Linked DNA regions of Homo sapiens. The protein of the gene in region 1 interacts with the protein of each later gene in a pairwise test. Each region holds a gene or a part of one and is shown in the gene's direction. Other genes may lie near its edges. The genes, in order: TLR2, CD14 and CXCR4.

Region 1 (8,022 bases):
ATTTCTAAATAACCCATGGGTCAAAAAATAATCAGAATGAAAATCAGAAAATATTTTTAATGACTTATGAAAAAAATTACATATAAAAACTTGTCAGATGCACCTAAACTGTTGCTTAAAGGAAACTTACAACCTTAAGTGCATATATTAGAAATGAAGAGTGACGAAAAATGAATGAGCAAGCAAATACCTTAAAAACTGGAAAAGGAATAGTAAAATAAATCCAGAGAAATCAGAACAGGGGAAATAATAATATAAGAATAGAAATTAATGTGCTAGAAAATAGGGGATCTATCAAGTCAGAAGTTGATTTTTTGAAAATGCTAATAAAAATGATGAACCTCTGGCAAGACAATAAAAGCTGGTACAAATAACTCATCTAAGGAATAAAATTGAGGACCTCTCTTTTGTTAAATGACATAAGCAGGAGGCCATTATCCTGAGACTGTCTCTACACTTTGAGTTCTTACATAATAAACTGCAACCTAATTTAGTATACTACATAAACAAACTGAAACCTAACTTAGGAGCTTTTTTTTTGTAATTAATAGCTAAATTTCCACCAAATCATAAATAGCCAAGCTTTAGCCAATCACAGGCAGCCAACTGATCAGACTATGCCCAAACAAGGTAAATGCCTATTACACCATACCCAAATAAGGCAGACTCCTAGCTGAAGCCAATCAGGTGATTACTATGCTCTTGTGTTTGGCCTATAAAAGCTCACTGCTCACACTGTTGGATGCTCTCTGAAACTTTTGTGAATCTGAGTGCTGCCTGATTCATGAATCATTCTTTGCTAAAATAAACTCTGTCAAATTTAATTTGTCTGAAGTTTCTCTTTTAACAGTGTTTGGTGTTGCAAGCAGGATCCAAAGGAGACCTATAGTGACTCCCAGGAGCTCTTAGTGACCAAGTGAAGGTACCTGTGGGGCTCATTGTGCCCATTGCTCTTTCACTGCTTTCAACTGGTAGTTGTGGGTAAGTTCCTGCTCAGACTTGAGCACTATACATTTGCATTTTCAGCTCTCTGACTTTATTTGAGCAATTCTTTGATGGATTGGCTCCAGAATTGGATTGGATTCAGTGAAGAAACTGAAACTGGACTGGTGCTCTAGGAGGCCTCAAGTAGATAAGGTTACTAGAAGACAGGGAATCCTGGGCTTATCTGGATTTAAGGAGTCTACAACTCCATCTGCAACTCCAGCCGATTTCATTTATAAGAATTATGGACCAAGAACCTGTGCTTTTCTAGAGAAATGTGTGAGCCTTACTAAAGGTAACTTAGAATTACAATGGACTGCTGAGACCAGCTCGGTCGTGGAGACCCTAACCCAGCAGCGCTAGAGGAATCAAAGACACACACACAGAAATGTAGAGTGTGGAGTGGGAAATCAGGGGACTCACAGCCTTCAGAGCTGAGAGCCCCTAACAGAGATTTACCCACATATTTACTGACAGCAAGCCAGTGATAAGCATTATCGCTATAGATTATAGATTAACTAAAAGTATTCCTTACAGGAAACAAAGGGATGGGCCGAAACAAAGGGATAGGCTCTGGCTAGATGTCTGCAGCAGGAACACGTCCTTAAGGCACAGATTGCTCATGCTATTGTTGTGGCTTAGGAACACGTTAAGCGGTTTTCTGCCCTGGGTGGGCCAGGTGTTCCTTGCCCTCATTCCAGTAAACCCACAACCTTCAGCGTGGGCGTCATGGCTGTCACAAACATGTCACAGTGCTGCAGAGATTTTGTTTATGGCCAAATCTGGGGCTAGTTTATGGCCAGGTTTGGGAGCCTGTTCCCACATGTCCCCCTTTTTTGTTTTGCAAAGCAATAAAAGCAAAGGCAGCTTTGTCACAGTGAGCTACTTCTTGCAGGAGTCGGGATTCGCATATGCATACTATACAAAGACAAACAACACAGATTAAAAGCACAACCATCATTGAAATCACAGAGCTTCCAAGTGTCTTTATCTATTTTAATGGGTTAATCACTGCTAATCTGTCTGCAGCTCCTTCAAGCACTCCAGTTCCTGGCATTAAGGTCTGGTGTGCCTGGAATGCTTTAAATATTTGTTCTTTTAATATTGCAATATGGAAAGACAAGTTTGTAGAGTGTCTTCTAGGTGCTTTTTTATTCTTTCCTGAATTTGGTCTTATTTAAGAGCCATTAATAGTTTCCACAAATCCTTATGTTTAGCTCCTACAGCGGGCCATATCATTTGAGGGTGAGGTGCCACTATACCATCATGTTTCCAGATAATAGGAACTCTTGCCATATTTCTTGCTATTTCTACCATCTGACCATTTTGTTTAGACCAGCTAAACATAGTGTGGCCATGGCACGCAGACTGAGAGGTGCAATTTAAGCTAAACATCCCCTTAGGGGACCAATCAATAATGATTCCATAGGAATCACTGCGCAGCACCTCTGCCTATTCTGCAATGCAATCTTCCCAAACAAGTATGTTCATTATTTCTGGCCAGGTCCAATTCTGTTTACAAATAGGTTTTTGAGGGCAATATGCCTCAATTATAGAAACAGATTTATTATGGTAAATACTGAGATCAGAAAGCATGTGTAACTGTGTCATAGAATGATTACATCCAGGCATTATTGCCAGCCAAGATTGATAAATATGCCCAATAAGTATAATTGTTCTCTGTGTTAGCCCTTGTTGAAGGAATACTAATGGCAATGGTGATCACTGCTATCATAGCTATCATTAAATTACTCATTGTGACTGGTTGTCCCACTTTCCTCAGGTTTTCTTCCACCCTCTATGGCAGTTTCTTGATCTGTCCCCAGGTAGATGGCTGTGTTTGATGGTTGTTGCTCGTGATAGTTTGGGTCCTCCTCAGCATCAGTCTCGACATGGCTGCAACCAGAGGGTCCTCGGGATCCTCCCAGAATCTCTTCCTTGGCATCTGGCTCATGATAAGGTTTCAGGTGTCTTGATGGTATCCAAATCAGCTATTGATTCTGGCCTGGAGAAACACAAGCATAACCTCTACCCCAAGTTATTATTTTACCTATTTCCCAACTTTTTGTTGTCAGATCTCTGCACCAAGCCAGTTGTTCTGCTTCTGTTTTTGCAGCTGGTTTCTGTAGATGCTCTTCAGCTGCTGATAGCATCTGGCCTTTAGGCAGGCTCAAAAAATTTAAAGTCATTAATGCTAGATTCAGTTGTATATGGGGTGTCCTGTAATCCCTGTTTCCCCTTTTTGCTTTTGCAACTGCTGTTTCAGGGAGAGATTCATTCTTTCTACAATGGTTTGTCCTTGAGAATTATATGGGATGCCAGTAATGTGTTTAATATTCCATATAGAGAAAAATGTAGCTAGAGCTTGGCTAGTATAGCCTGGGGCATTATCTGTTTTAACAGAAGTTGGAATTCCTATCACCACAAAACACTGCAAAAGGTGATGCTTAACACATGCAGTCTCCTGATTGGCATGTAGCCCAGACAAAGTGAGAAAAGGTGTCCACACATACATGTACATAAGCTAGTCTCCCAAACGAGGGAACGTGTGACATCCATTTGCTAAAGATAATTAGGTTCCAATCCTCGAGGATTAACTCCTCCTGTTAAAGATGAGGAATGCACCATTTGGCAAGTTGGGCATCACTGGATAATAGCTTTAGCTTCTTTCCAGGTACTGTTATATCTGCATTTGAGACCAGAGGCATTAACATGGGTTAAATTGTGAAAGTGTCTAGCATTAGATATTGCAGTAGCAACTAGGCGATCAGCCATTTGATTCCCTTCAGTTAAAGGTCCTGGAAGAGGTGTATGAGCCCTAATGTGAGTGATGTAAAAAGGGTGCATTCTACTCCTAAATGCTGTTTGCAATTGGGTAAATAAAGTCATCAGTTGTTCATCTGTATGAAGTCATAACTGAGCATTTTCAATTAATTGTATGGAATGAACCACATAGGAAGAATCAGAAATCACATTAATAGGCATATCAAAAGCAGTCAATACCTCAATTACAGCTAAAGCTCCACTTTTTGAGCTGAAGTATAGGGCGTGTGAAAAACTTTACCTTTTGATCCAGAATAAGAGGCTTTACCATTACAAGACCCATCTGTAAAAACATTCTCAGCACCTTCAGTTGGTTTAAATTTAGTTATTTTGGGGAGAATCCAATTAGTTAATTTCAAAAATTGAAATAATTTCATTTTAGGAAAATGATTATCAAGAATACCCACAAAGTCAGCTAAATGGGTTTGCCAAGTAAGACTATTTATAGAAGCTTGCTGTATTTGTGCCTTTGTGAGAGGGACAATAATTTTTCCAGGATCATATCCATGTAATTTAACAATCCGAATTCTCCCATTTCTTATCATCGTAGCCATTTGATCCAAATAAGGAGTTAGAGTCTGTGAATTAGTATGTGGAAGAAAAAGCCACTGTACAAAGTCTTGCTCTTATACAATAACACCAGTAAGTGAATGCTGAGTTGGAAAAATTAGCAAATCTAGGGTCTTTTTTGGATCTATTCTATTTATTTGAGATTTATGGATTTGCTTTTTGATTAGCTGCAGCTCTGCCTCAGCTTCTTTTGTTAATTGCTGAGGGCTAATGAGACTAGGATCTCCTCTAAGGATAGAAAATAGATTACTCAGGGCATAGGTGGGAATGCCTAGAGCAGGTCATATCCGATTAATGTCCCCTAGTAATTTTTGAAAGTCATTTAATGTTTTCAATTGATCCCTACGTATAGTTACTTTCTGTGGCACAATGGTAGTGTCATTTACTAAGGTCCCCAAGTAGGAGTAAGGAGTAGTAGTCTGAATTTTGTCAGGAGCTATATAATTAAACTGGCATGAGAAATCGAGTTTTGCAAGTGATCATAACATTGGAGTAATATTTCTTGAGTGGGGGCAGCACAAAGTATATTATCCATATAATGAATAATGTAACACTGTGAAAATTTTTTACGAGTAGGTTCAATTGCTTGCCCTTCATAAGTCTGGCAAATTTTTGAACTGTTTCACATGCCTTGTAGCAACACTTTCCAATACAAATGCTTTAGTATGCTGCAGGTTTTTTACTGCAGGAATTGTAAATGCAAACAGTTCACAGCCTTGCTCAGCTAAGGGGATAGTAAAGAAACAGTCTTTTAAATTTATGACTATTAAAGGCCAATTTTTTGGAATCATAGCAGAAGAAGGCAGTCCCGGCTGCAATGTCCCCATAGGTTGTATAACTGAATTAATGGCTCTTAAGTCAGTTAACATTCTGCATTTACCTGATTTTTTCTTAATTACAAAAACTGGAGAATTCCAAGGGGAAAATGTTGAGCTATGTGTCCTTTTTCTAATTGTTCAGCAACTAAGTCCTCTAAAGCCTCCAGTTTCTCTTTACTCAGCAGCCATTGTGCTATCCAAATTGGCTTATCTGTTAACCATTTTAAAGGTATATAGGTTCTGGAGGCTTAACAATGGCCACCATCAAAAATGATATCCTAAACCTTGGTGGGAACTTTGTCTTTCCGCTTGAAGCATTTCCTTCAAAGCTTGCAAATTTTTTCCTAGTCCCATACCAGGGACATACCCCATTTCATGCATCATATGTTGACTTTGAGGGCTGTATAATTATTCTGGAATTAGAACTTGTGATCCCCATTGTTGTAATAAATCTCTTCCCTATAAATTTATAGGTACAGAAGTTATAATTTTTTGTATAGTCCCAGGTTGTCCATTGGGCCCTTCACAATGCAAAATATAACTACTTTGATATACTTTAAGGGCTTTACCAACTCCAACTATGTTAAATTGAGCAGGTTGAATTGACCATGCAGATGGCCAGTGCTGTACAGAAATGATTGAAATGTCCGCTCCTGTATCTACCAAACTTTTAAATTTCTTTCCCTGAATAGTTATTTCACCAGTAGGATGTTTATCAGTAATTTGATTCACCCAATAAGCTGCTTTGCCTTGTTTATTTGTGCTTCCAAATCTTCCTGTTCATTTAATTTCACTTTTCCCCATTTCCACATATGGCATAATCAGGAGCTGTGCTATATGCTCTCCTGGCTCTGCTTTCCAGGGAACAGAAGTAGATATAACAATTTGAATTTCCCCTTTGTAATCTGAATCAATGACTCCTGTTTGTACTTGCACGCCTTTTAAATTTAAACTAGACCTACCTAGAAGTAATCCTACCATCCCCGCTGGCATCATCTGACTGGAGACAGCAACCTTCTTTAACAGTCCCATTACAAAAGGAGAACCTGTTCCATATGGATTAATAGCTTGTTTAAATTCTTTGAGTAATTTAAAAGGAAAAGGCTCAAATGTAGCTATAATATTTCCCTGTTGATCTACGGGGTATATTCTAACAGGGAACTGCTAAGCCTCTATATCACCCTCTCTTCTAACTTGCTGAATTCCTGGCTGAATAGAACTGAGAGTGGTCGCTCGAGGTGCTGCTCAGTCACTGGGGCGACTACTTTTTGCCCAGTGTCCTCTGGAAAAGAAAGATCTGGAGGATCAGGCTACTCTTTTGCTTCGAAATAATGAGGGGGTGCAGAAGGGTAGGGACAAACCTCTCCCTCCTTTGCCACTTTAGCTTTAGCTGGCAAACAAACCTGCTCTGTCACCTCTTCTGTTACTTCATTATACTTTCCTTCCTCCTCATCTTTAGTGTGAAAAGGTTCCAAGGTGGAATGAGCTAGAGCCCACACTTGCCCATTGTTACCCTGATGCTTCCGAGCTCCCCTTCTTACTCACCATGGGGATTGCTTAAGAGTACTCGGGTATCCTCCAGCTTTGTTCCACGTTTTCCAACCATTGCTCCAGCGAGCCTTCATCCTGGGTTTGAGTCCCCACGTTGGGCGCCACTTGCCGAGACCAGCTCGGTCGTGGAGACCCTAACCCAGCAGTGCTAGAGGAATTAAAGACACACACACAGAAACATAGAGTGTGGAGTGGGAAATCAGGGGATTCACAGCCTTCAGAGCTGAGAGCCCTGAACAGAGATTTACCCACGTATTTATTGACAGCAAGCCGGTGATAAGCATTATTTCTGTAGATTATAGATTAACTAAAAGTATTCCTTACAGGAAACAAAGGGATGGGCCAAAACAAAGCGATGGGCTCTGGCTAGATATCTGCAGCAGGAACACGTCCTTAAGGCACAGATCGCTCATGCTATTGTTTGTGGCTTAGGAATGCCTTAAGTGGTTTTCCATCTTGGGTGGACCAGGTGTTCCTTGCCCTCATTCCAGTAAACCCACAACCTTCAGTGTGGGCGTCATGGCCATCACAAACATGTCACAGTGCTGCAGAGATTTTGTTTATGGCAAGATCTGGGGCCAGTTTATGGCCAGATTTGAGGGCCTGTTCCCAACAGTGGACAAAGAAGAAAAGCTGCTTAAGGCAAACAGGCACATATTTTTTAAAGCTACAATAGCTAGACAAACTAAGAGAATCCTGTGTATGTTTTACTTTTGTATTTTTATTTTTAATATTTGTGGATACATAGTAGATGTATATATTTATGGGGCACTTGAGATATTTTGATACAGGCATACAATGGATAATAATAACATCACGGTAAAAGGGGTATCCATTACCTCAAGCATTTATCCTTTCTTTGTGTTATAAACAATCCAATTAAACCTTTTATCATAAAATGTACAATAATGTTGACTGTGGTCACCCTGTTTTGCTATCAAAGAATAAATCTTATTCATTTTATCTAAGTATATTTGTGTACCCATTAACCATCCCAGTCCCCCTGCTCCTCCAACTACACTTCCCAGCCTCTGTTAACCATCATTCTACTCTCTTATCTCCATGAGTTCAATTGTTTTAATTTGTAGCTCCCACAAATAAGCGAGAACATGGGATGTTTGTCTTTCTGTGCCTTATTTCACTTAACATAATATCCTCCAGTTCCATCCATGTTGTTATATGACAGAATTTCATTCTTTCTTATGGCTGAATAGTACCCCATTGTATATATATACCACATTTTCTTTATCCATTCATGTGTAGGTGGACACTTGGA
Region 2 (7,324 bases), on another chromosome or scaffold:
GTGCCCACATTACCTAAAAAAATCAAATGTTTAGCCAACCGGGATTAGTTCAGATTGTATGACCCGACCCCGGCCAATGGGGAAAGGGTACAGGGGCAGGACTTGCGTCAGGAATAAAGGCTCTCGTGCCCCTTTGTTCAGGTGTGCTCTCATGGCGACTGGCCAAGCAGACACCCCTCTGAGCAGAAGTAAAATTGCTTTGCTAATAATCCTTTGTTCGAGTGTTCAATTTCCCTTAGGATTTTGAGCGTTATTCCTAAGAGAAAGAAAAGAAAGAAAGGAAGGAAGAAAGAAAGAAAGAAAGAAAGGGAGAAAAGAAAGAAAGAAAAGAAAAGAGGAAAGGAGGAAGGGAAGAGAGGGGAGGGGGAAAGAGAGAAAGACATTGGTTTGTGGGACAACAGAAAGGCGGGACAACTCGAAGTGGGGCGGTGGGGGGCTTCCAGCTTATAGGTAGATTTTAAATTTTTCTGGTTGACAATTGGTTGAGTTTCTCTAAAGACCTGAAATCAATAGAAAGGAATGTCTGGGTTAAGATAAAGGATTGTGGAGACCCAAGTTCTTATTTGCAGAGGAAACCTTCAAATCCTAGGCTTCAGAGAGAATGGGTTGTAAAATGTTTCTTATCAAACTTAAAGTCTGTGTTGATGTTAACGGTAGAGAGGTATAATGAGGCACGTTCAACCCCTACTTCCCATCATGGCCTGAAACGGTCACTCGGGTTTAATTTTGAAAGAGCCCTGGCTGAGGAGGAAGTCCATTCAGATGGTTGTGGGGGGCGGCCTTAGAATTTTATTTTTGCTTTACAGAATGTTCACCACAATGACCATTATTCTCATTTTATATGTGATGAAAATGAGAAAGATATCATTATTTCACTTCTCTGCATAAAACTGAATTCCCATAATTTTTAGGATAAAATCTTTCACCAAATGTGGAGTGCCACTAGTCTACTAGGCACTGAGGAAACACTAGTGAATAAAAAACCGTGTTCCTCACATTCAAAATTGGAATTGTGGCCGACTTAGCCCTACATGGTCTAACCCCTGCATACCTCTCCAATCTGGACTCACCTCTTCTGGGACCTTCTCTTTGTCAACAAGCCCTGTTCTTTTTCTCCTCCACCCTACTCCCACTCTTGGGGGAGGCTCTCGCACAAGCTGTTTTCTCTGCCTGCATCCTTCCCTTTTCTTTCTACCAGCATCCTTCCCTCAACACCATTCTCAACATGTCAAGTCCAGTGTCACCTACTCAGAACCATTGTACCAATGACCCAGCTTCTTCACAACCCTTTTCACAGCTATCATTAAGTTATAGTGTAATTATTTGATGTTGTCTCCTCCCAGACCCCCTTGGCAGCTCCAGAAGATTAGGGTCCCGGTGGCACCTAAGAATTTTTACAGGAAACCTCTAATTTTTAAAAAGCCATATAACTTAGGCAAAGGTTCAATTAAGTACAAATCTAGGAAAAAGGTTATTCTTAAAACCAATTTCTTTCCCTTGAACTTAATTCTACCCCTTGGAGTTAATCAATGAAGTCTGCAATCTCTTCCACAAAACAGCATGTTAAAATATCTACAGGCCATCATTCCATCCTCCATATCTTCTCTCCCAGTATCCATCCAGCCCCTGGAGAGCCATTTACTGAGTACCTGCTGTGCACCATGCTCTGGCCAGGGATAGGGCCTGGATCTTGAGCCCTTCCTCATGCAACTGTCTGGCTTCTTTTTTTAATTTTTTAATTAAAAAAAATTTATTTTCTTATTTCCCCAAGAAAAACTTTTTTATTTTTATTTTATTTATTTATTTTTTTTTTTGAGCCAGGGTCTTGCTCGGTTGCCCACGCTGCAGTGCAGTAGTGCAATCATGGCTTATCACAGCCTGGAACTCAGCCTTAAATGATCCTTTCAGCTTGGCCTCCCAAAGTGCTAGAATTACTGGCATGAGCCACTGCACCTAACCCAGGCTAGCTTCTAAGACCCACACTTGGCCCAGCAAGGTGGCTCATGCCTATAATCCCAGCACTTTGGGAGATGGAGGCAGGTGGATCACCTGAGGTCAGGAGTTCGAGACCAGCATGACCAACATGGTGAAACCCCGTCTCTACTAAAAATGCAAAATTAACCAGGTGTGGTGGCACGTGCTTGTAATCCCAGCTACTCAGGAGACTGAGGCAGGAGACTCGCTTGAACCCAGGAGGTGGAGGTTGCGATGAGCCAAGATTGCATCATTGCACTCCAGCCTGGGCAACAAGAGTGAAACTCCATCTAAAACAACAACAATAACAACAACAACAAAACCCACATGTGCTCCAGGTGGGGAAGATGAAAAAAGTTCCCAGCCAAAAGCTATATTCTGCCCAGTGTCTGCTCAGACAGCTACAGCTGCCCAAATTGCCTTTCTGTATCTACCTGTCTAGCAACACTGTTAACCCTGTAAGAACCAGCCCCATGTCCTGTCTTGTACAGGGCTGGCTGTTCCTTTCTCCAGACCATGTTCCTCCCCTCCACCCCTCTCCCCCAACAACACAAGCCTTTGGTTTCTCTTCTTTTAAGAGCCCTCTGCACTATGGACGGAAGTTCTGGGTTCATGTTTGCTCTACCCACCTCCTGGAGCACTTCAGGGACTTGTCTTTGTCATGTCTGTGTCCCAGGGCTTTCTACCAACCCTAGTACTCGGTAGACAAATGATAGACATTTGTTGAATCAAGCTGTGAGTTGGAGATCTTTGCAGAACCATCACTGCCCCTCTTAACTTGGAACTCCCCACCCAGAGTGCCTCCCCTAAGATGATGAGGTGTCAGACTTCAGTGGCCTGAGTTCTCTGAAAGCAGAGACTCTGAGAAAGAAGACTAGTCATCAAGACCACACTAAAAAGATGTGTTTCTGTGCCAAAGACTTTACTCACAAACAGGTAATACTATCATCTCCATTTTACAGAAGGGAGGCCCAAGTCTCATAACCTCAGTCGTAAAGCTGGGATTCCAAGACTGGCTATCTGACTTTGAGTCAGATATAATCATATCTTGGTCCTCAGGGATATCACAGAGGCCTGGCATGGCACCAGGGCATGGCCCAGTGCATTGGGGTATGCCCAACAGGACCCGCAGGGGGCAGTGATGAGCCTTCTTGTTTGGATTGGGGACAAATCTGCAGCTACTTCTTTCTCAATTAAAGAGGAAGTGGGAATTTAAAAAAGACTTTCTGCCGGGCACGGTGGCTCATGCCTGTAATCCCAGCACTTTGGGAGGCCGAGGCAGGTGAATCACCTGAGGTCGGGAGTTCGAGACCAGCCTGACCAACATGGAGAAACCCCATCTCTACTAAAAATACAAAATTAGCCGGGTGTAGTGGCACATGCCTGTAATCCCAGCCGCTCGGGAAGCTGAGGCAGGAGAATTGCTGGAACCTGGGAGGCGGAGATTGCAGTGAGCTGAGATCGCGCCCAGCCTGGGCAACAAGAACAAAACTCCGTCTCAAATAAATAAATAAAAGTAAAAAAGACTTTCAGGCCGGGTGTGGTGGCTCTCGCCTGTAATCCCAGCACTTTGAGAGGCCAAGGCGGGCGGATCACCTGAGGTCAGGAGTGCCTGGTCAACATAGTGAAACTCTGTCTCTACTAAAACTACAAAAATTAGCCGGGCATGGTGGTGGGCTCCTGTAATCCCAGCTACTCAGGAATCTGAGGCAAGAGAATTGCTTGAACTTGGGAGGCGGAGGTTGCAGTGAGCCAAGATCACGCCACTGCACTCCAGCCTGGGCAACAGAGCCAAACTCAGTCTCAAAAAAAAAAAAAAAAAAAAAGACTTTCATATAGTTCTTTCCCCAGAGGTCTAGGGATGTGGACCTGTGAGGGCTGTTGTAAATGCGTAGCTCCTTATTCTCTGGGACATTTGTTGTTTTTTTGTTTTGTTTTGTTTGCTGTTTTTTTCATTTTGTTTTGTTTTCTGTTTTTGTCTGTTTTTTGCGAAACTGGTGAGTTACTAATTAATCCTCATTCAACATAGTCCCATCCCTTCCTTCCTAGGGCACAGAGATTGTACTGAGGGGAGGGCAGGAGAGAGCAACGTGCAAGTGGGAAAACTGATTCAAAATACCTTGCTTCACAATTTCAGGACAGAAAATGGATAGTGTAAGTGACCCAGAGACTTGGCCAATGTGTCTCTGTTAAATACATCCACTTTTAAGAAAGTTAGTACTGCCAGGCACAGTGGCTCACGCCTGTAATCCCAGCACTTTGGGAGGCCGAGGCGGGTGGATCACAAGGTCAGGAGTTCAAGACCAGCCTGGCCAAGATGATGAAAACCTGTCTCTACTAAAAAATACAAAAATTAGCTGGGTGTGGTGGTGGGCACTTGTAATCCCAGCTACTCGGGAGGCTGAGGCAGAGAATTGCTTGAACCCAGGAGGCGGAGGTTGCAGTGAGCCGAGATCATGGCACTCTACTCCAGCCTGAGCAACAGAGCAAGACTCTATCTCAAAAAAAAAAAAAAAAAAGAAAGAAAGTTATTACTTAATCAAAGGAGCAAGGAAAAAAAAAGGAAGGGGGAATTTTTCTTTAGACCAACTTCCTTTTCTTGAACCTAATTCTACCCCCCTTGGTGCCAACAGATGAGGTTCACAATCTCTTCCACAAAACATGCAGTTAAATATCTGAGGATATTCAGGGACTTGGATTTGGTGGCAGGAGATCAACATAAACCAAGACAAGGAAGAAGTCAAAGAAATGAATCAAGTAGATTCTCTGGGATATAAGGTAGGGGGATTGGGGGGTTGGATAGTGCAGAGTATGGTACTGGCCTAAGGCACTGAGGATCATCCTTTTCCCACACCCACCAGAGAAGGCTTAGGCTCCCGAGTCAACAGGGCATTCACCGCCTGGGGCGCCTGAGTCATCAGGACACTGCCAGGAGACACAGAACCCTAGATGCCCTGCAGAATCCTTCCTGTTACGGTCCCCCTCCCTGAAACATCCTTCATTGCAATATTTCCAGGAAAGGAAGGGGGCTGGCTCGGAGGAAGAGAGGTGGGGAGGTGATCAGGGTTCACAGAGGAGGGAACTGAATGACATCCCAGGATTACATAAACTGTCAGAGGCAGCCGAAGAGTTCACAAGTGTGAAGCCTGGAAGCCGGCGGGTGCCGCTGTGTAGGAAAGAAGCTAAAGCACTTCCAGAGCCTGTCCGGAGCTCAGAGGTTCGGAAGACTTATCGACCATGGTGAGTGTAGGGTCTTGGGGTCGAACGCGTGCCACTCGGGAGCCACAGGGGTTGGATGGGGCCTCCTAGACCTCTGCTCTCTCCCCAGGAGCGCGCGTCCTGCTTGTTGCTGCTGCTGCTGCCGCTGGTGCACGTCTCTGCGACCACGCCAGAACCTTGTGAGCTGGACGATGAAGATTTCCGCTGCGTCTGCAACTTCTCCGAACCTCAGCCCGACTGGTCCGAAGCCTTCCAGTGTGTGTCTGCAGTAGAGGTGGAGATCCATGCCGGCGGTCTCAACCTAGAGCCGTTTCTAAAGCGCGTCGATGCGGACGCCGACCCGCGGCAGTATGCTGACACGGTCAAGGCTCTCCGCGTGCGGCGGCTCACAGTGGGAGCCGCACAGGTTCCTGCTCAGCTACTGGTAGGCGCCCTGCGTGTGCTAGCGTACTCCCGCCTCAAGGAACTGACGCTCGAGGACCTAAAGATAACCGGCACCATGCCTCCGCTGCCTCTGGAAGCCACAGGACTTGCACTTTCCAGCTTGCGCCTACGCAACGTGTCGTGGGCGACAGGGCGTTCTTGGCTCGCCGAGCTGCAGCAGTGGCTCAAGCCAGGCCTCAAGGTACTGAGCATTGCCCAAGCACACTCGCCTGCCTTTTCCTGCGAACAGGTTCGCGCCTTCCCGGCCCTTACCAGCCTAGACCTGTCTGACAATCCTGGACTGGGCGAACGCGGACTGATGGCGGCTCTCTGTCCCCACAAGTTCCCGGCCATCCAGAATCTAGCGCTGCGCAACACAGGAATGGAGACGCCCACAGGCGTGTGCGCCGCACTGGCGGCGGCAGGTGTGCAGCCCCACAGCCTAGACCTCAGCCACAACTCGCTGCGCGCCACCGTAAACCCTAGCGCTCCGAGATGCATGTGGTCCAGCGCCCTGAACTCCCTCAATCTGTCGTTCGCTGGGCTGGAACAGGTGCCTAAAGGACTGCCAGCCAAGCTCAGAGTGCTCGATCTCAGCTGCAACAGACTGAACAGGGCGCCGCAGCCTGACGAGCTGCCCGAGGTGGATAACCTGACACTGGACGGGAATCCCTTCCTGGTCCCTGGAACTGCCCTCCCCCACGAGGGCTCAATGAACTCCGGCGTGGTCCCAGCCTGTGCACGTTCGACCCTGTCGGTGGGGGTGTCGGGAACCCTGGTGCTGCTCCAAGGGGCCCGGGGCTTTGCCTAAGATCCAAGACAGAATAATGAATGGACTCAAACTGCCTTGGCTTCAGGGGAGTCCCGTCAGGACGTTGAGGACTTTTCGACCAATTCAACCCTTTGCCCCACCTTTATTAAAATCTTAAACAACGGGTCCGTGTCATTCATTTAACAGACCTTTATTGGATGTCTGCTATGTGCTGGGCACAGTGCTGGATGGGGAATTCATCATACTTAGGCTTTCTTCATCCTAACTCCCTAAGAAACCCTATCTGTCCTCCTCAAGAAAAGAACTGCGGGGATAGAAGGAGCCAGGAAAGGACTCCTGGCTAGGGCTGCATGGGAGAAACAATGAGTGTGCAGTCAGGGCTTTCTGAGCAGATTATTGGCATCTGGATTAAAAGGTATTTGCATGATATTTGGAAGATACAAAATATTTCCTCTCCTATGCACTTCCCAAGAGCCAGCTGCTCCCTTTCAAAGGTAATAAAACCCACAGCCATTTGCTTATTTCCTTATTCTTTCTCTCTCTCACACACACACACACTCACACACCCTCCCTCTCCCTCTCTGTCTGTCTCCCTTACCACTCAAGGAAGAGGGACAGCCTCCTATCCTGCACAAGCTCTGAGTTTCATAATATTAGGGTTCCTCTCTTGTAAAACCTCTCTTCACCCGGAGGCTTTCACTGTGTCACTCCCCGACATAATGGGAAATTTGGGCCTAGGGAACTGACGCAAGATACAGTCGGTCTCTGAATTAGAGATCCTGTGTTCTGTTAGAACACATATGCAGATAACCTTTTCAGGCTGACTGATTGGCAAATAGGAAAGCATCTCAGACTCTTCAAAACTTCAGAATAAACAGGATTTGTCCTCTAGTCCACATTAGCTCAGAGACCTACAGCATCAGCCATCAAGAGGTG
Region 3 (8,466 bases), on another chromosome or scaffold:
TTTGTTTAAATGACTTACCAGGATGGCTCTAAATTGCCTATATTTGTTTACTAGTCTAGTTTATTCTCTTTGTATAGGAAATTTGTTGACTAGTCTTGACTGCTATAAAGCATTGATGGAAATCACTAATCATCCCATTTTAGTGAAGGCAGACCTTTTCAACATTCAAGATACAACTTAAATCTAGAGTAAAAATGGCTCTCCCCCAAAAAACAGTAATAATTTCCTAAATTGGTAAAGAACTGTAGGATGGAAGGTTTGGGTTTGTTTTCAAAGTCACTTTTCATCTGTAGGTGTTGGAGACAGAAGGATTTAGGGAAGGAGGAGAGGGCGGGGTGTGGTTAGGCAAGGGACAATTTGTTCCACCTAACACCAGCTTGGAAATAGTTGACATTTGATACCATTGTCTCTTTGAGATTTGTAACCCTGTGTTAGAATTACTTGCGCCTTGAGAAATAGTCTCCGTTTTTGTTTTTTTTTTTTAATCACTTAGGAAAACATTAACTTTCTCTAAGTATCCCTTACTACTGTCAAGGAAGTTTGCACTTTTTTCCTCTTTCAGAAACAAAAGCGATCAATTTTTTTAGAGACAGGAGAGGGGCCAGCGAAGGAACCAGAAGACCCTGTGTATTCTGAAGGCCTTTAATGCCTCCTGCCATCCACCTCCTCCTGGCACCTCCTCCTTTCTCTAACCTCCTGCCATCCACCACTGGGAAAAGGTCTGTTCCTAAGCTTTCTGCCTAGCTAACATGAAGCCAATTTAGGGACAGAGTACAGCTTTTCATCACACACACACAGATACACACACTCACACACAAATCAACCAGCTGCAGAGCGAGCAACAGGAGGTGGCAGGATGCTTGCCACTGTGTCACTGGATTTGTAAGCATCCCCTCCAAACTGTGGCCAAGGCTAGTTATTCCCTGGGCTAAAGCCAACCTGAGAAGTTGGGGACCCTGCCAAATCCCTGACAGCCCCTAAGCCTGACTCTGTTGCCAGAGCCACACAGGAAAGTCATTCATTCTTTTAAGAAAGGTTCAGTAAAAGATTAAGGAGCCCAGTATTTGTTCAGCAATGGGCTAGCTGGATAGAGGATATCTGGGCATTCACTTTAAGGAACCTAAAATATTGGAGGGATAGGAGTATGACATATACTCATTTAAAAGTTGAGTAACATCACAAGGGATGCCACTCAAAGCAGTATGTACGTAAATGCCAAATGACCTGGGCTTCAGAGCCAGACAGACTGGGTGCAGATCCTCATTCCGGGGTCACAGGCCAGTTCCTCATCTTTCCAGACCCTAATTTCTTTACCATGTAATAAAAGTAATGGCACCTGCCTTGTAGAGTTATTGAGGGGATTATATGAGGTCAGTTGCACATAACAAGCGCTCAGTAAATGCTTGAGTTTTGTTTGTTTTTTAAAGAACATCATAGAATAGTTGAGAATAAGGTTTAGGTAGCCCAGTGGAAATAGAAGTTTAAGATTAGCCCATTGGAAAACAAGCCTTCCTTGAAAGGGGAAAGGACTATTGTGAAAAAAGTCTGACATCTTAGTAGATACTTTAGAAGTGGAAACATACATGAAGGAGGCCTTCTGATTCCCTTTTTGTCATACAATTTGTTGGCTTTTTTATGAATATGAAAATGATTCATGTCTATTACAGAAAATCTGGAAAGCATAGAAAAACCCCAGGAAGAAAGCAAAAATCAAATATAATTCTGCACCAAGGAAAACGCCTATAAACATTTTGGTTTTCCTCCCTATATTTTCCAAATGCATATTTTAACATAACTGAGATCACACTATATACACAATTCTGAATCCTGCCTTTTGCACTTAATGTTTCATAAGTATTTCCCCATGTCACTAAAAATTCTTCACAAATAACATTCGCGATGTCCATATGGAATTTCAGATGTGGATGAACCAAAATCTTGTCAACTATTCCACTAACAGTGGTTATTTAGGGATGTTCAGACATTTCACTATTTAAAAAAAAATGTTTCCACAAATACCTTTGTGGCATAAGTTTTTATGAGTGGAGTTACTGTTCTGAAGTTCCTGCTGAATAGAAAATGCTTTCCAGTGAGGCTGTCCCAAGCCACATTCCCATCAGTGACAAGCGAGAGACAGCTGGTCTTTTCAAATCCGGAGACCAAATATTATCTTTGAAAAAAAATGGATTTTTGCCTAATTTGGTAGTCACCAAATAGCATCTCATTGTTCTTTTAATTATCTGCTTCCTTTTAGTAGAGATCCCTAAAAAGATCTGAAAGGAGTCTTCAGATAAAGGAAGGAGCTTTCTTTTGTCTGTCTACAATCAACAAATATTTATTATGCAAACCATTTTGCTCCGAGTTTTCTCCTCTTTCCCTTTTTGGACAGATTTGGGAGATCTCACCTTTCAGGTTTTAGACATCGTGCAGGGAGGAGTTTTGAGGTAGGGTGCAGCTTACGGTCCAGGATAAAACATACTGATTCTGCCACTACCAGGCTTTGTGAAAAGCAAGTCATGAAAACGCTCTGAAATTCTAGACCTTCAGTAGATAGGATCTACCGTGTCTATAAAAATATGAAGATCCTTAAGTTTTATTAAAGATTCGAAAAAAGTAAAAGTGTTTTTACGGTTTTATTTTCATTTTTATTTCTTACCGTTATCGTTTATTATAAAGGATATTATAAAGGATACAGATGAAGAGATACGTAATGCAAGGCCTGTGAGAAGGGGCGTGGAGCTTCCGAAACCTCTTCCAGCCACCACCCTCCAAGAACCTGGAGTTTCTTTTTTTTTTTTTAATTCTACAAATGTAATATTAGAATTGATTTTATCTGGCCATTAGTGTGTGTCCTAACTCGTTCGTTTCTGAGAGTCCCATCTCCCGGCCCGGATATCATCTTTCCTGTGTCAGTGAAAGTGCAGAGTAGATGAGAACCTTTAACCACCAACATTAGGGAGGGGTCCCAGACAAAGGGGGAAAGTCATGCTCTGTAGAGAAAAGGTTCCCTGCCTCCGAACTACCTCTGGAACACTCCAGACTGAAATGTTTCCTCTTTTGATATAGAAAAGAGGGATCGTGTGTAGAGTGCAGTCTGGGCAATCCCTCTCCTCGGGACCATTTCGGGGTGGGGGCCTCTGGGGTCCGTGTCGCGACGCACGCGCCTCGGTCCCAGCTATCTCCGCAGCGGCCACCCCGCCTGCGGACGCAGTTTCTCGGCCCCGCCCCACACTCGCTCCCCCGCCCCACCCAGTCTCCGCGCCGGAGGGAAGTGGCGCGAGGGGGAAAGCACTGTCTGCGCGCCCACTGCAAACCTCAGCCAGTCTGAGATCGCTTTAAACGTCTGACCCCCACCCCCACTCCGCCCCGCCCAGTTCTTCAACCTAATTTCTGATTCGTGCCAAAGCTTGTCCTCTGCTCAAAATCGTGGAAGACGCCGAGTATGGGGACCGAAGACCTGGGTTCAAGCCCGGCTTGGAATCCCTGCCCATCCCTGGCATTTCATCTCTCCGGGCTTATTTGCTGGTTTCTCCGAATGCGGGCCTTGTCTGGTTCACGCTGGATCCCCAACGCCTAGAACAGTGCGTGGCACGCAGTTCGTCCTTCTATAAATATCGGACTAAATGCATCTCTGTGATGGTAATACCCACACGGTGTTGTGAGAATGAATGAGTGATTCTGTGCAAGTTCCTAGTGATCTGTTACAAAAAGTACTGGTCGCTAAATTACTCTTATAATAAAGCATACTTTTAGGATAATAAAGCACTATTCGCGAATTGGTTACCGCTATTATGAAATTACTGAGCAATACATATCTACATCTGATCAGTCTCCAGAATTATGCCAAATCCTACCTTCTTCTGAAAGTATCTCCTAATTATCTGCACCTGACCCTAGTGATGCTGTGAATGTGCAAGTATAGCTACATCCTCCGAAGGAAGGATCTTTACTCCTTTTACCTCCTGAATGGGCTGCGTCTGCTGAAAGCGCGGGGAATGGCGTTGGAAGCTTGGCCCTACTTCCAGCATTGCCGCCTACTGGTTGGGTTACTCCAGCAAGTCACTCCCCTTCCCTGGGCCTCAGTGTCTCTACTGTAGCATTCCCAGGTCTGGAATTCCATCCACTTTAGCAAGGATGGACGCGCCACAGAGAGACGCGTTCCTAGCCCGCGCTTCCCACCTGTCTTCAGGCGCATCCCGCTTCCCTCAAACTTAGGAAATGCCTCTGGGAGGTCCTGTCCGGCTCCGGACTCACTACCGACCACCCGCAAACAGCAGGGTCCCCTGGGCTTCCCAAGCCGCGCACCTCTCCGCCCCGCCCCTGCGCCCTCCTTCCTCGCGTCTGCCCCTCTCCCCCACCCCGCCTTCTCCCTCCCCGCCCCAGCGGCGCATGCGCCGCGCTCGGAGCGTGTTTTTATAAAAGTCCGGCCGCGGCCAGAAACTTCAGTTTGTTGGCTGCGGCAGCAGGTAGCAAAGTGACGCCGAGGGCCTGAGTGCTCCAGTAGCCACCGCATCTGGAGAACCAGCGGTTACCATGGAGGGGATCAGTGTAAGTCCAGTTTCAACCTGCTTTGTCATAAATGTACAAACGTTTGAACTTAGAGCGCAGCCCCTCTCCGAGCGGGCAGAAGCGGCCAGGACATTGGAGGTACCCGTACTCCAAAAAAGGGTCACCGAAAGGAGTTTTCTTGACCATGCCTATATAGTGCGGGTGGGTGGGGGGGGAGCAGGATTGGAATCTTTTTCTCTGTGAGTCGAGGAGAAACGACTGGAAAGAGCGTTCCAGTGGCTGCATGTGTCTCCCCCTTGAGTCCCGCCGCGCGCGGCGGCTTGCACGCTGTTTGCAAACGTAAGAACATTCTGTGCACAAGTGCAGAGAAGGCGTGCGCGCTGCCTCGGGACTCAGACCACCGGTCTCTTCCTTGGGGAAGCGGGGATGTCTTGGAGCGAGTTACATTGTCTGAATTTAGAGGCGGAGGGCGGCGTGCCTGGGCTGAGTTCCCAGGAGGAGATTGCGCCCGCTTTAACTTCGGGGTTAAGCGCCTGGTGACTGTTCTTGACACTGGGTGCGTGTTTGTTAAACTCTGTGCGGCCGACGGAGCTGTGCCAGTCTCCCAGCACAGTAGGCAGAGGGCGGGAGAGGCGGGTGGACCCACCGCGCCGATCCTCTGAGGGGATCGAGTGGTGGCAGCAGCTAGGAGTTGATCCGCCCGCGCGCTTTGGGTTTGAGGGGGAAAACCTTCCCGCCGTCCGAAGCGCGCCTCTTCCCCACGGCCGCGAGTGGGTCCTGCAGTTCGAGAGTTTGGGGTCGTGCAGAGGTCAGCGGAGTGGTTTGACCTCCCCTTTGACACCGCGCAGCTGCCAGCCCTGAGATTTGCGCTCCGGGGATAGGAGCGGGTACGGGGTGAGGGGCGGGGGCGGTTAAGACCGCACCTGGGCTGCCAGGTCGCCGCCGCGAAGACTGGCAGGTGCAAGTGGGGAAACCGTTTGGCTCTCTCCGAGTCCAGTTGTGATGTTTAACCGTCGGTGGTTTCCAGAAACCTTTTGAAACCCTCTTGCTAGGGAGTTTTTGGTTTCCTGCAGCGGCGCGCAATTCAAAGACGCTCGCGGCGGAGCCGCCCAGTCGCTCCCCAGCACCCTGTGGGACAGAGCCTGGCGTGTCGCCCAGCGGAGCCCCTGCAGCGCTGCTTGCGGGCGGTTGGCGTGGGTGTAGTGGGCAGCCGCGGCGGCCCGGGGCTGGACGACCCGGCCCCCCGCGTGCCCACCGCCTGGAGGCTTCCAGCTGCCCACCTCCGGCCGGGTTAACTGGATCAGTGGCGGGGTAATGGGAAGCCACCCGGGAGAGTGAGGAAATGAAACTTGGGGCGAGGACCACGGGTGCAGACCCCGTTACCTTCTCCACCCAGGAAAATGCCCCGCTCCCTAACGTCCCAAACGCGCCAAGTGATAAACACGAGGATGGCAAGAGACCCACACACCGGAGGAGCGCCCGCTTGGGGGAGGAGGTGCCGTTTGTTCATTTTCTGACACTCCCGCCCAATATACCCCAAGCACCGAAGGGCCTTCGTTTTAAGACCGCATTCTCTTTACCCACTACAAGTTGCTTGAAGCCCAGAATGGTTTGTATTTAGGCAGGCGTGGGAAAATTAAGTTTTTGCGCTTTAGGAGAATGAGTCTTTGCAACGCCCCCGCCCTCCCCCCGTGATCCTCCCTTCTCCCCTCTTCCCTCCCTGGGCGAAAAACTTCTTACAAAAAGTTAATCACTGCCCCTCCTAGCAGCACCCACCCCACCCCCCACGCCGCCTGGGAGTGGCCTCTTTGTGTGTATTTTTTTTTTCCTCCTAAGGAAGGTTTTTTTTCTTCCCTCTAGTGGGCGGGGCAGAGGAGTTAGCCAAGATGTGACTTTGAAACCCTCAGCGTCTCAGTGCCCTTTTGTTCTAAACAAAGAATTTTGTAATTGGTTCTACCAAAGAAGGATATAATGAAGTCACTATGGGAAAAGATGGGGAGGAGAGTTGTAGGATTCTACATTAATTCTCTTGTGCCCTTAGCCCACTACTTCAGAATTTCCTGAAGAAAGCAAGCCTGAATTGGTTTTTTAAATTGCTTTAAAAATTTTTTTTAACTGGGTTAATGCTTGCTGAATTGGAAGTGAATGTCCATTCCTTTGCCTCTTTTGCAGATATACACTTCAGATAACTACACCGAGGAAATGGGCTCAGGGGACTATGACTCCATGAAGGAACCCTGTTTCCGTGAAGAAAATGCTAATTTCAATAAAATCTTCCTGCCCACCATCTACTCCATCATCTTCTTAACTGGCATTGTGGGCAATGGATTGGTCATCCTGGTCATGGGTTACCAGAAGAAACTGAGAAGCATGACGGACAAGTACAGGCTGCACCTGTCAGTGGCCGACCTCCTCTTTGTCATCACGCTTCCCTTCTGGGCAGTTGATGCCGTGGCAAACTGGTACTTTGGGAACTTCCTATGCAAGGCAGTCCATGTCATCTACACAGTCAACCTCTACAGCAGTGTCCTCATCCTGGCCTTCATCAGTCTGGACCGCTACCTGGCCATCGTCCACGCCACCAACAGTCAGAGGCCAAGGAAGCTGTTGGCTGAAAAGGTGGTCTATGTTGGCGTCTGGATCCCTGCCCTCCTGCTGACTATTCCCGACTTCATCTTTGCCAACGTCAGTGAGGCAGATGACAGATATATCTGTGACCGCTTCTACCCCAATGACTTGTGGGTGGTTGTGTTCCAGTTTCAGCACATCATGGTTGGCCTTATCCTGCCTGGTATTGTCATCCTGTCCTGCTATTGCATTATCATCTCCAAGCTGTCACACTCCAAGGGCCACCAGAAGCGCAAGGCCCTCAAGACCACAGTCATCCTCATCCTGGCTTTCTTCGCCTGTTGGCTGCCTTACTACATTGGGATCAGCATCGACTCCTTCATCCTCCTGGAAATCATCAAGCAAGGGTGTGAGTTTGAGAACACTGTGCACAAGTGGATTTCCATCACCGAGGCCCTAGCTTTCTTCCACTGTTGTCTGAACCCCATCCTCTATGCTTTCCTTGGAGCCAAATTTAAAACCTCTGCCCAGCACGCACTCACCTCTGTGAGCAGAGGGTCCAGCCTCAAGATCCTCTCCAAAGGAAAGCGAGGTGGACATTCATCTGTTTCCACTGAGTCTGAGTCTTCAAGTTTTCACTCCAGCTAACACAGATGTAAAAGACTTTTTTTTATACGATAAATAACTTTTTTTTAAGTTACACATTTTTCAGATATAAAAGACTGACCAATATTGTACAGTTTTTATTGCTTGTTGGATTTTTGTCTTGTGTTTCTTTAGTTTTTGTGAAGTTTAATTGACTTATTTATATAAATTTTTTTTGTTTCATATTGATGTGTGTCTAGGCAGGACCTGTGGCCAAGTTCTTAGTTGCTGTATGTCTCGTGGTAGGACTGTAGAAAAGGGAACTGAACATTCCAGAGCGTGTAGTGAATCACGTAAAGCTAGAAATGATCCCCAGCTGTTTATGCATAGATAATCTCTCCATTCCCGTGGAACGTTTTTCCTGTTCTTAAGACGTGATTTTGCTGTAGAAGATGGCACTTATAACCAAAGCCCAAAGTGGTATAGAAATGCTGGTTTTTCAGTTTTCAGGAGTGGGTTGATTTCAGCACCTACAGTGTACAGTCTTGTATTAAGTTGTTAATAAAAGTACATGTTAAACTTACTTAGTGTTATGTTCTGATTTCTGTTGACATTCTTTTGGCTAGTAGAAGACAAAAGTAATACATTTATGGTATGCAAAGCACTATCCTAGGTATTTCATTGTAATATTTTACTTACCCCTTATCACAACTCTGATAGATTCTGCTTCTGTTACTAATTACATTTTATAGAAGAGGAAACGGAGGCACAGAAAGCCTAAGTAACTTGGTTAAAGGCATGTAG

The links.
Region 2: the proteins of TLR2 (region 1) and CD14 come close enough for resonance energy transfer, tested with the Homo sapiens proteins (one study listed by IntAct).
Region 3: the proteins of TLR2 (region 1) and CXCR4 interact in binary tests that used the Homo sapiens proteins (3 or more experiments, as listed by UniProt).

The regions. Positions count from the first base shown.
Region 1 is NC_000004.12:153,687,067-153,695,088, forward strand, and holds part of TLR2 (toll-like receptor 2 precursor), read left to right. Parts: exon of another isoform or gene 1-835; 5' UTR 836-981; intron 982-987; exon of another isoform or gene 988-1,279; intron 1,280-8,022. UniProt on the Homo sapiens protein: Cooperates with LY96 to mediate the innate immune response to bacterial lipoproteins and other microbial cell wall components. Cooperates with TLR1 or TLR6 to mediate the innate immune response to bacterial lipoproteins or lipopeptides.
Region 2 is NC_000005.10:140,630,959-140,638,282, reverse strand, and holds CD14 (monocyte differentiation antigen CD14 precursor), read left to right. Parts: upstream 1-5,107; 5' UTR 5,108-5,211; coding exon 5,212-5,214; intron 5,215-5,302; coding exon 5,303-6,427; 3' UTR 6,428-6,551; downstream 6,552-7,324. UniProt on the Homo sapiens protein: Coreceptor for bacterial lipopolysaccharide. In concert with LBP, binds to monomeric lipopolysaccharide and delivers it to the LY96/TLR4 complex, thereby mediating the innate immune response to bacterial lipopolysaccharide (LPS).
Region 3 is NC_000002.12:136,114,128-136,122,593, reverse strand, and holds CXCR4 (C-X-C chemokine receptor type 4), read left to right. Parts: upstream 1-4,444; 5' UTR 4,445-4,533; coding exon 4,534-4,548; intron 4,549-4,724; exon of another isoform or gene 4,725-5,065; intron 5,066-5,620; exon of another isoform or gene 5,621-5,851; coding exon of another isoform or gene 5,852-6,118; intron 6,119-6,358; exon of another isoform or gene 6,359-6,654; coding exon of another isoform or gene 6,655-6,681; coding exon 6,682-7,725; 3' UTR 7,726-8,245; downstream 8,246-8,466.